Linked DNA regions of Homo sapiens. The protein of the gene in region 1 purifies or fractionates together with the protein of each later gene. This does not show direct contact. Each region holds a gene or a part of one and is shown on either strand. Other genes may lie near its edges.

Region 1 (5,488 bases):
TATCCATTTTCTCTTTCTAGTTATGTAAGCAGTAAATACTGATTCAATTTCATTAGTTTTTAAATTATTTCCTCAGGAACTTGGGCTGGATAAAAGGAGGAATTCGTGAGTACTGGTATGTATTCCTTTGCAAGACTAACAGTGCAAATGTTTTTCTTCATTAGGGAAAACAAAGTGCATGATGAAGTCTTCAGACTGTGTCATAAAGCATGCTGGTGTATACAGTACTGGCCTTGCAATGGTGGTAAGCTTCTTATTATCTCTTAGACTAGTACGTTTTCAAGGATAAGAAAATGTCATTCTGATCAGTGGTTATTTTTTTCTAAATATCATTGCTTTGTCCCTTGTTTCAATCAATCTGTAGTTATCTGGATTATGAGTGGCATGCTTTTTGTATGATTTTCCCTTAGTACCCACTTGTTTCTAGCTGCTTCTTTCTTTCTTATTAGGGAACATACAAGGCATGGAAACTTTTCATGCTGATCTAAACAGAATTTCATTTCTCAGTGGTACCTTTTTTTTTTTAAATTTTATTATTATTATTATACTTTAAGTTTTAGGGTACATGTGCACAACATGCAGGTTTGTTACATATGTATACATGTGCCATGTTGGTGTGGTGCACCCATTAACTCGTCATTTAGCATTAGGTATATCTCCTAATGCTATCCCTCCCCCATCCCCCCACCCCACAACAGTCCCCGGTTTGTGGTGTGTGATGTTCCCCTTCCTGTGTCCATGTGTTCTCATTGTTCAGTTCCCACCTATGAGTGAGAACATGCGGTGTTTGGTTTTTTGTCCTTGCGATAGTTTGCTAAGAATGATGGATTCCAGCTTCATCCGTGTCTCTACAAAGGACATGAACTCATCATTTTTTATGGCTGTATAGTATTCCATGGTGTATATGTGCCACATTTTCTTAATCCAGTCTATCATTGTTGGACATTTGGGTTGGTTCCAAGTCTTTGCTATTGTGAATAGTGCCACAATAAACATACGTGTGCATTTGTCTTTATAGCAGCATGATTTATAATCCTTTGGGTATATACTCAGTGGTACCTTTCTAATATCTCTTAACCAGACTTCACAAAACAGTATTTAGTGTACCGAAAGCCCTGCTTAACCAACGTTTAAGCCTTTGGTTAAATAAGCAACTTAGTTCCAAACGAACCTAGGATAATAGTGTTCTTTAAAACTTTACATTTCAAAAAAGTGTATATATTTAACATACCTCTTCATTACATATAGGATTTTTTAAAGTAAATTCAGCTTTTTGAATAATAAAACCAACTGGATTATGTGATGTATTTTGCTCTTTTTCCTGAAACATGTTTTCCTTCTAAATATGAGTTAACCAGTTTTACTGTATTGCAGTATGATTTTATGTTCAAATAAAATTTTGTTCAAATTTTAATCTATGAGGAAAATGATACTATATTTATGTCAAATGGAATATTTTATTTATGGTAAATTTCCAAGAACATGTAAACTTCTATTATGAGGGAGACCTATGATATATTTCATATGTGCATATATTATAGAAGCAAGGAGCGAGAATTATCATCTTGTGAATTGCTCTTTATTTTAAGTATAGGATTGTCAAGTTATCTTTATTCAAAAACACTTTCAGTCTTCCTTGGTAGCTTAAGTTCAGCCAAATTCATTTTTTAAAATCACTGTTTTTTGAATGTGAATAATTTCTTCTTACATAAAGAAAACATTTAAGTAGAGTCATATATCTTTAGTTGTAAATTCTAGAAAAGTGATTTTCTGGATATCTTCTATTTGCCTCCCCAGATTCCCCCTGAGAATAGCAGGAGAATAAGATCTGGGTGTTTATTCCTTCATCTCACTCCGTACCAGGTTATCCTGGTTTGGTTTTATCCTTTCTCTAAGGACCACAGTTCTCCCTATATGGCCAGGTAGTCCTCTCCTGTTTGTCCTAAGAACTTCCCTGTCCTCTGCAAATTATCTCTTTAAAACTCTTCTAGATTACCTAGTTTGAGAGTACCATCTCTTTTTTGCAAGAACCCTGGCTGATCCAAGAGATATAGTTGATGATTTGCTAGCTATACTGATAACCCATTTTTGCAAGTCAAAAAACATTCTTCCTATTTGTTGTTTACTACATTTGTTTCAGAGCCTTGAATAATAGAATACTGAATTGAGATTCTGAAATCCTGGCTTTAAATCTCACCTCACCTGTAATCCAACTCGGGACTTGGATTTAGTCTTGGGCCCCATGCTTTTCCTTTATAAAGGAAAGATTGTCTGATCCTACTCTCTTAAGATTCTTTCTAGCTTTTAATATTTGGTAGGTGTCAATGTTTTATTGAAACATATTGTTATTGTCTTTTCTTGATATAGAATTGGAGAATCTTACCCTGTATTTTAGTTCCATATATTTTACTTCAAATTTTTTCCACAAAGAAATGTAATTATTATTAAAACATAAGTTGTCATAAGAGAAAAAAAGAAGCTGGCAGAAGTTTCGTATTTCTCAGTAATTCTAGAAAAGCTATGCAAATATATAGATAAGAAGGTATTTTAAAAATCAGAAATGGTAGTATTTAAAAATTCAGTGTAGTTACAGGAATTATTATAGACAAGAAAGCTTAAGCTGTTGGTTCCTTCAAACTTTATTTGAATTAAATTCATTTTGAGGAAAATACTTCCATCTCTTTGGCTTAATTAAATAATATTAGGATAAGTGTACAGTTTACCTTTTTTTCTTTTGATATGTAACTGAGTTTTGTATATTGTGGATAGCTGTTAAGAAGTTGTTTTTCAGAGAACCCTTTTTATTTTTGGCTTAGAGTGAGTAGTAAAATGTTTAAATGAAGCGGCCTACTATCATTGAGGGTTGATAAATTGCTAAATGTATACAGTTTTGATGGTTGCCGTGGTTAAAGAATGGTTGCAGGTGGTCAGGTGATAATGATTATGTATTCTTGTTCCTTGGTTACAGGGTGCAATATGTGACTTCTGTGAAGCTTGGGTTTGCCATGGTAGGAAATGTCTCAGTACACATGCTTGTGCCTGCCCTCTTACCGATGCTGAGTGTGTTGAATGTGAACGAGGCGTGTGGGACCATGGTGAGTCATTAGACACAAGTAATGAGCTTTGTTATAGGTGAATGTTGACTTTGAAACATTTTGAATGCTGTTTTTGAGATTTTTTTCAGGATACTGTCAATCCTAACTACTGGTACTGTTTTGATTATCAGTGTAGTTAGAGAAGGGATCTATACTGTCTGTTATTGTCAATGCTAGTATTGTTTACCCAAACATGGAGGGAAGTTGTGGTGGAGCAGGTAGTCTCTTTGAGCATTGTGAGTGTTATATGGGTAGCTAGTGGAGAGTAAGAGCCCCCTTTTCTCAGTTTCAGTTCAGTTTCAAGGACTTCAACAGTTTTCATTTTAGCTTTTATCAGAATAAAAATGGCTGAACAATTTTGGTGTATCTCCAAAGTAACTTACCATCTCTTCTAAGCAGTATTATAGATATGAGTTTTTTTAAATTAAAGTTTATCTTAATTACATTTGTGTTTTTTTAATCCAATAGGAGGCAGAATATTCAGTTGTTCTTTTTGCCATAACTTTCTCTGTGAAGATGATCAATTTGAGCATCAAGCCAGCTGCCAGGTTTTAGAGGCAGAAACATTTAAATGTAAGTTTTTAAGTATTAGATGTTCTTTATACCCAAGATTCTGAATAGTATAATTATTAATCTTAATGAAAAAGGAATCAAGTTTTTTTATACTGCTTCTCATGAACTGTAATTTAACTCAGTCTTTATTTTCTGTTTCTAGAAAACAGAACAGTCAGAATATAGTTGTAAATTTTTCAGCAGGGATGCCAGTGGCATATTGGTTGGGCCAGTTTTTCATTTTGTAGGCTTGATTTGATCAGGCATTGCAGGACTTACACCTTTCGTGGTTCAGAGTACCACATGTCATTTTTACCTTCAAATTATTATAAAAAACCAAACCTCACCCTTCCTTCCCATTTCCAAATGCCCTCCCGTAAGAGATACCACCCTGTTTGTTTCTGCTAGTTGGTTCTAGTGATTCTTAGACAGGACTGTATATCAAAAATACCTGTGGAGGTTTTAAAAATAATGTAGATGTCCAGGCCTCATCCCTGGAGATTCTATCTTTTAAGTCCGTGGTGGGTGCCAGGCACCTGTATTTAACCTATACACAAAATTCTCACGTATTTTCCAGTTGAGAGCCAGCATTGCTGACTGGGTAATAGTATCATCTTTACACATAGTTTTTTTCTTGGAAGGTTCATTGAAATGAGACACCATATAAAACAATAGCATGTGGTACTTGGCATTTAAAAAGCCCTTTTTAAATAGTAGTTACTATTATAGGAAAAAGACCGAAATTCCCCAGGTATTCTCTTCCTTTAATTTGGTTCTTGTTCTGGTATGAAATCCTAATTATTATACTTATTTATAAATTTAAAGTAGATAAGTCATCTCTGTGATATACATACAACATACATACTACACACACATAGACACACAATGTGTATGCATGTGTATATAATTCTTGCAATATTTATATATAAAATTCTCAGATTAAAAGAGCATCTCGAAGTATATAGCATTTTTGAGCCTTTCGTCGCCTTTTGCAGAATGTATAATAATAAATTTAATTATTTTATTTGCAGCATGGGAGCTTTGTGTGTTTTATAGCATTTGAACCCAAAAGACAGGCAGCTGTCTATAAGGCTATATTCCATTGCAAGCTTTTAGTGATTTGATAAAAGACAAAAGAAAATTCTAAGAACCAAATAACGGGATTTTAAAATTAATCTATTTCCCACAGGTGTTTCATGCAATCGGCTTGGTCAGCACTCATGTCTCCGTTGTAAGGTATACCAATGCGTTTTTTTCTTTTTAGATTTTGTTTTTAATCTCTATACCCCTCCACCAGTCCTTGGCTTATATGCAGCTATAATTAATTTATAAGGGACCTTAAAATTATGTAGTCTAATTCTTTTATTTTTGAGACTGTGGAATTGAAGTTGAGAAAGCTTACATGACTTTCCAATGGTCATCCAGTCACCTTTTAGTAGAGCTGTGGCTAGTGCACATTTCTCTGGAATCCTGGCTCTGTGTTTTTAGTGGAGAACATTCTGACCAAGATGATGAGAGTCTATTTTAATTAATGTCAAAATATACCTGCTTAGAAGAGTTTGGGTAAAGATTTCCAAATTTTTCTGTGTCCTTAGGCCTAGTCTCTAGCATTCGTTCGTCAAAGATTACTAAACAGATGCAGCCAATGCCCTTCCTCTCAGAAGCGTTTCTCTAGTTCTTATATTCCTAACCCTATGTCTTATTTATCTTCCAACTCTGTTCTAGTTTTACCAAATGGTGTTCAGGCATTATCTGTGTTTTCTTTGTCTGGAATACTTTTCCATCTTGGCTTACCCTATTGCCCTCCCATTCTTCATATGGCTATTAAGACTTCGTGTCTC
Region 2 (4,494 bases), on another chromosome or scaffold:
GGAGGCTCTAGTCTGGGATGAGGGCGGGGCTCGAAGTGGACTTGGGCTTTAGAATGGGCTTACACTTGGGGACATAGTCTGCCTTGGGTAGAGTTTGAAGGAGCAGCATGTAAGGTGGGGCCCTGGCTTGGGGAGGAGTAACTGTTGGAGGTGGGGCCTAGGTGGGGAATTCACCTGGGAATTCTGCTGAAGGGTGGAGGATTCTGGGAGACAGCAAGGGCTGCTGGTACAAAGGCTGCTAGGTCAGCAGGAAGAGAAGAGAGGAAGAGGCTCTGTCTTGACTGAGGGAAAGAAATAGAGTTCTCAGAAGAGGTGTGTGAACCATGATCATTGGAGAGGGACTTGGCCTGTGTGACCTACCCTGCCTGTCCCTGGTTTAGCTTAGCATTAAGAGCACGGACACTTCAAATTTCAGCTCTGTTACTTACCAGCTTGGGCATTCTGTGAGCATCAGTTTCTTTATCTGTTGAGTAGGGTAATGGCAACTTGCCTCATACAGTTATTGTTATCTGTAAAAGAGTTAGGTTAGTGCAATACAAGTTTAAAAGCAAAATGCAAAACCTTGCCTGTCTGCCTCAGCAAATGTTGTCTGAAATGAGAAGTGTGGGGAGTGGAGTAGTTCCTGGACAGGGTCTGGACTCACTCAGGCCACAGGGCCCCAGGTGGTAGCCTTTTTGCCACCGTCTCCTCCACCCACAGGAGGATAACTGCCCATCCTCCAGCTTCCCGGCCGGCTGGTCACACCTCACCCTCAACCCAGGACAGGTCACACAGCTGGAGCTATGGGTTGGAATAAGGGAATTAGCCCGGCTGCCCAGGCCTGCCCAGGAACTGAGGTGAACAGATCGTCTTTGAGAAAGAGGCTTGGGGACTGGAGACAGGACAGGTGGGGTCAATATGGATCTGGGGTGTCTCCTTTGAGGAGGGCTCCGATGGTCCCACATCTGGTAGGTGCTGGACGGTGGACCTAGATTAGGTCAAAGAATTTCTCAGAAGCAGCGGAGTCCAGAGTTGAGGGCATGGGTCCTGGCATGCCGGGCTCACCCCTGCCTCAGTTGGCATGAAATGGGCATGATTGCTAGTCCCCATCTTGCAGGGGGATCCAGTGATAGAGTGATTGTAAAGCGCTGGTCCCATAGCAAGCATTTGGTGTAGATTGGTCTGAAAAAAACAAGGAAAGAGGGTGGGAGGGAAGAAAAGAAAGAAGGCAGGAGAGCTCTAAGAGGCCCTAACAGGAATGAAACTGAGGTGTCAAGAGGGCTCTCTGTGCACACTTTTGGCCATGACCCAGTGTCTTCTGCAGTCCTTACGCAGCCACATGAGGACACTCAGCACAGAGCAGCCTGTGTGTCCCAGAGAGTGAGAGAACTGAAGTGGTGTCCCCAAGGCCACCCGGCAAGTTGGTGGCAGAGCCAATACCTGAGCTACCCTTAGGCCCCGTATGTACCTGCTTCTCATGTGACGCACAGGGAAATTGAGGCCTGGCCCCACCTCCCTCTGTTGCCCTGCTGGCCACATGCCCAGGGGAAGGGATTTCCAGGGCTTACCCAGAGTGGCATTGCTGGGGAGAGACCAGATGCCTGGGCTCCTGGGTTTCCCCAAGGGGACGGCCCTTAGGAATCCTGTGCCTCCTCCACTGCCACCCCCTTCACAGCGGGTCATCCGGAGCCGCAGCCAGTCCATGGATGCCATGGGGCTGAGCAACAAGAAGCCCAACACCGTGTCCACCAGCCACAGCGGGAGCTTCGCGCCCAACAACCCCGACCTGGCCAAGGCGGCTGGAATAGTGAGTGCCCTCCCCCTCCCCAGGCCCCGGCCCCTCCCTGGGGGGCCCTCAGCTCTCCTCTGCCTCCTGAGGCCTGACTCCAACTCTCTCTGTTGCCCTGCTGCCCACATGCCCATCCTAGGCTCTGGATTTGGTCTAGCCACTACTTTCCATGGGAGGGGGGTGAAGTGCCCAGGCCAGGACACTGCGGTGCTGACAGCTTGCAGCCTGCAGCCCCTTCCCAAGCTCCTTGGCCCTCCCCTCCTCCTGGCCCTTTATGCATTGAGGTGTGACTTCCTGCAGGTCAGCCCTGGGACAGCCTCTGTGTCTCATTCCTTATTGAGTATCTATCTGTTTGCTGGGGACTGGGCTGCTGTGTGGGCACCTACTGTCAAGCCTTGGGTTTCTGGGAGCACCTACTGTGTGTCGGGCTGTGGGCACCCACTGTGTGTCAGGCCCTGGGCTGCTGTGTGGACATGCACTCTGTGAGCATCTACTGTGGGCCTGGCCCTGAGTACCTGTGAGCACCCACTGTGTGTCAGGTCCTGGGCTGCTGTGTGGGCATCAACTCTGTGAGCGCCTACTGTGTGCGCAGCCCTGGGCTGCTGTGTGAGAACCTACTGTGTGTCAGAAAATGGACTGCTATGTGAGCACATCGTGTGTGATAAGCCCTAGATGTCAGTGAACACCTACTGTGTGTCAGGAAGTGAGCTGTTGTGTGGGTACTTTCTCTGTGAGCACCTCCTACTGTGTGTCCGCAGCAGCCAGGGCCTCTGTGGTGTGGCTGCCTATTGTGTGTCGGGAATCTGGCTTCTGTGTGAGCATCTCCAGAGGGAGCACCTCCTGTGTGATCACTGACTGTTGTCCAGGTTCTGGGATTCTGCTGCTCACACTCAGGAGTGCTGGGCACATGGATGAATACGGCCTATGGCTGTGGGCCTCACTGCTGTCCACTGCCTAGTGGCCACCCCAGGACACTGCACCCACTGCTGTGCTCCCCACCCATCCATCCAGCCACCCATCCATCCACCCACCCATCCATCCATCCACCCACCCATCCACCCATCTAGCTATCCACCCACCCACCCATCCACCCACCTACCCATCTACCCATCCACCCACCCACCCACTCATCCATCCACCCACCCATCCACCCACCCATCCACCCATCAATCCATCCATCCACCCACCCATCCACCCATCCATCCATCCATCCATCCATCCATCCATCCATCCATCCATCTCTATCCATCCCTCTATCTCCATCCATCCATCCACCCACCCACCGATCCATCCATCCATCCATCCATCCTTTATTGACTGTCTACTGCATGCCAAGCCCTGCGCTCAGTGCTGTGAGGCTATGTCACGTGGCAGGAGGGAATTCCCCGACCTCTGCTGTCCAGCAGTCACCAAGCACACTGTCATGCGAGGAGCAGGCCCAACCTCCCCCAACCCAGTTTTATCAACCACTCCCTTCCTCTCCACCAGAGTGACCCAGCCTCCTGTGGGTGGCCGAGAGGGGCCCCAGGGACAGGACCAGGCCAGCAGCACCCACCATGGCAGTAACCGGACCCATTTCTGTTTTGTTTTTGCACAACTCTCCCTCTCTCTGTGTTTCCTCCTTTCATTCTACTCTCTCTCCTTGTTTTTTTGTTCCCTCCTCCCTTCCCTTTCCCCGTCCTGTGGCCTCTCTGCCCTTTGGCTCTCTGTTTCTCCTTCCTTCTTGCACCTGTCTTTTTTGCTCCCTCTCCTCCTTCCCTTCTCCGCTCTTCTCACCCTCGCTTTTTCCTTTCGGCCTTCCCCTGGCTTCCTTCTCTGTCTCTGACCCTCCCTGGGCCTGTGTCTGTGTCCTTGCGTCCCTGTCTCTCTGGATTTCCCTCTGTGCCCATCTGGTGTGCCCTCGCTGGCTCACGCGTGTCCCTGTCTCCGGGTAACTGTCTGTCCATCTCTCCCCCGTCTCCCTTGTCCTCTGTCTCTCCTTGTGCTTCTCGCCTTCCTTTCCCCGGCCCTATCTCTCCCATTGCCTCCTGCACCGTTCTCTTCCTTTTTCTGTCTGTCTTCCTCCTTTCCCTGCCTCTCCTCCTCTCTGTGTCTCCCTCCCACCATCTCTCTTGCTCTCTGACTCTCTCTCTGTCTCTCTCTCTCTGCCCCCGCCCTCTGCTGCTTGCCAGTCATTGCTTATTCCTGGGAAAAGTGCGAGTAGATTCGGACGCCGGGGCAGTGCCATAGGCATAGGAACCGTGGAAGAGGTTGTCGTCCGCGGGGCCGCCGGCTCTGGAGGCTGCCTGCACGCGCTGTTCTCTGCTCGCTCTCAGGACGGAGGCCATATTGGGGACGTTGCCCCTCTGCCCCCGGGACAGGCCCCAGGGCGTGCGGGATGGAGTGGCGGCAGCTCCGATGGCACTCAGCACCTGCTTTGGGGCCTGGTACCTGTGCCAGAGCCAGTGCCCCTCACCAGGGGCTTCTGGCCCTGCCTTGGCCCCTGGGACCCTGGCCCAGTCCCTGCCAGGATCCGGTACCCAAAGGCCCTACACCCAGCCGCACGTCCCCCAATATCGCCGGTCTGCATGGAGCGCCATCCCTCTCCTCTGCCCTGACTCCTCCTCCCCGCCACGAAGTGACCTGGGGTCCTACCCCTTCCTGCCTCCAGAGAAGCTGGGGGCGGGCTTCTGGGGCCTGGGGCATCCCAGCACAGTGTGTGGGAAGCTGGGGGAGTCTTCCAGCTG

The links. The genes of interacting proteins can lie anywhere in the genome.
Region 2: the proteins of ZNF330 (region 1) and RAP1GAP purify together in Homo sapiens (affinity purification with mass spectrometry; one large-scale study listed by BioGRID and IntAct). This does not show direct contact.

Annotation. Positions count from the first base shown.
Region 1 is NC_000004.12:141,226,603-141,232,090, forward strand, and holds part of ZNF330 (zinc finger protein 330), read left to right. Parts: intron 1-164; coding exon 165-244; intron 245-2,968; coding exon 2,969-3,095; intron 3,096-3,563; coding exon 3,564-3,668; intron 3,669-4,836; coding exon 4,837-4,883; intron 4,884-5,488.
Region 2 is NC_000001.11:21,603,358-21,607,851, reverse strand, and holds part of RAP1GAP (rap1 GTPase-activating protein 1), read left to right. Parts: intron 1-1,654; coding exon 1,655-1,786; intron 1,787-3,939; coding exon of another isoform or gene 3,940-4,194; intron 4,195-4,494. UniProt on the Homo sapiens protein: GTPase activator for the nuclear Ras-related regulatory protein RAP-1A (KREV-1), converting it to the putatively inactive GDP-bound state.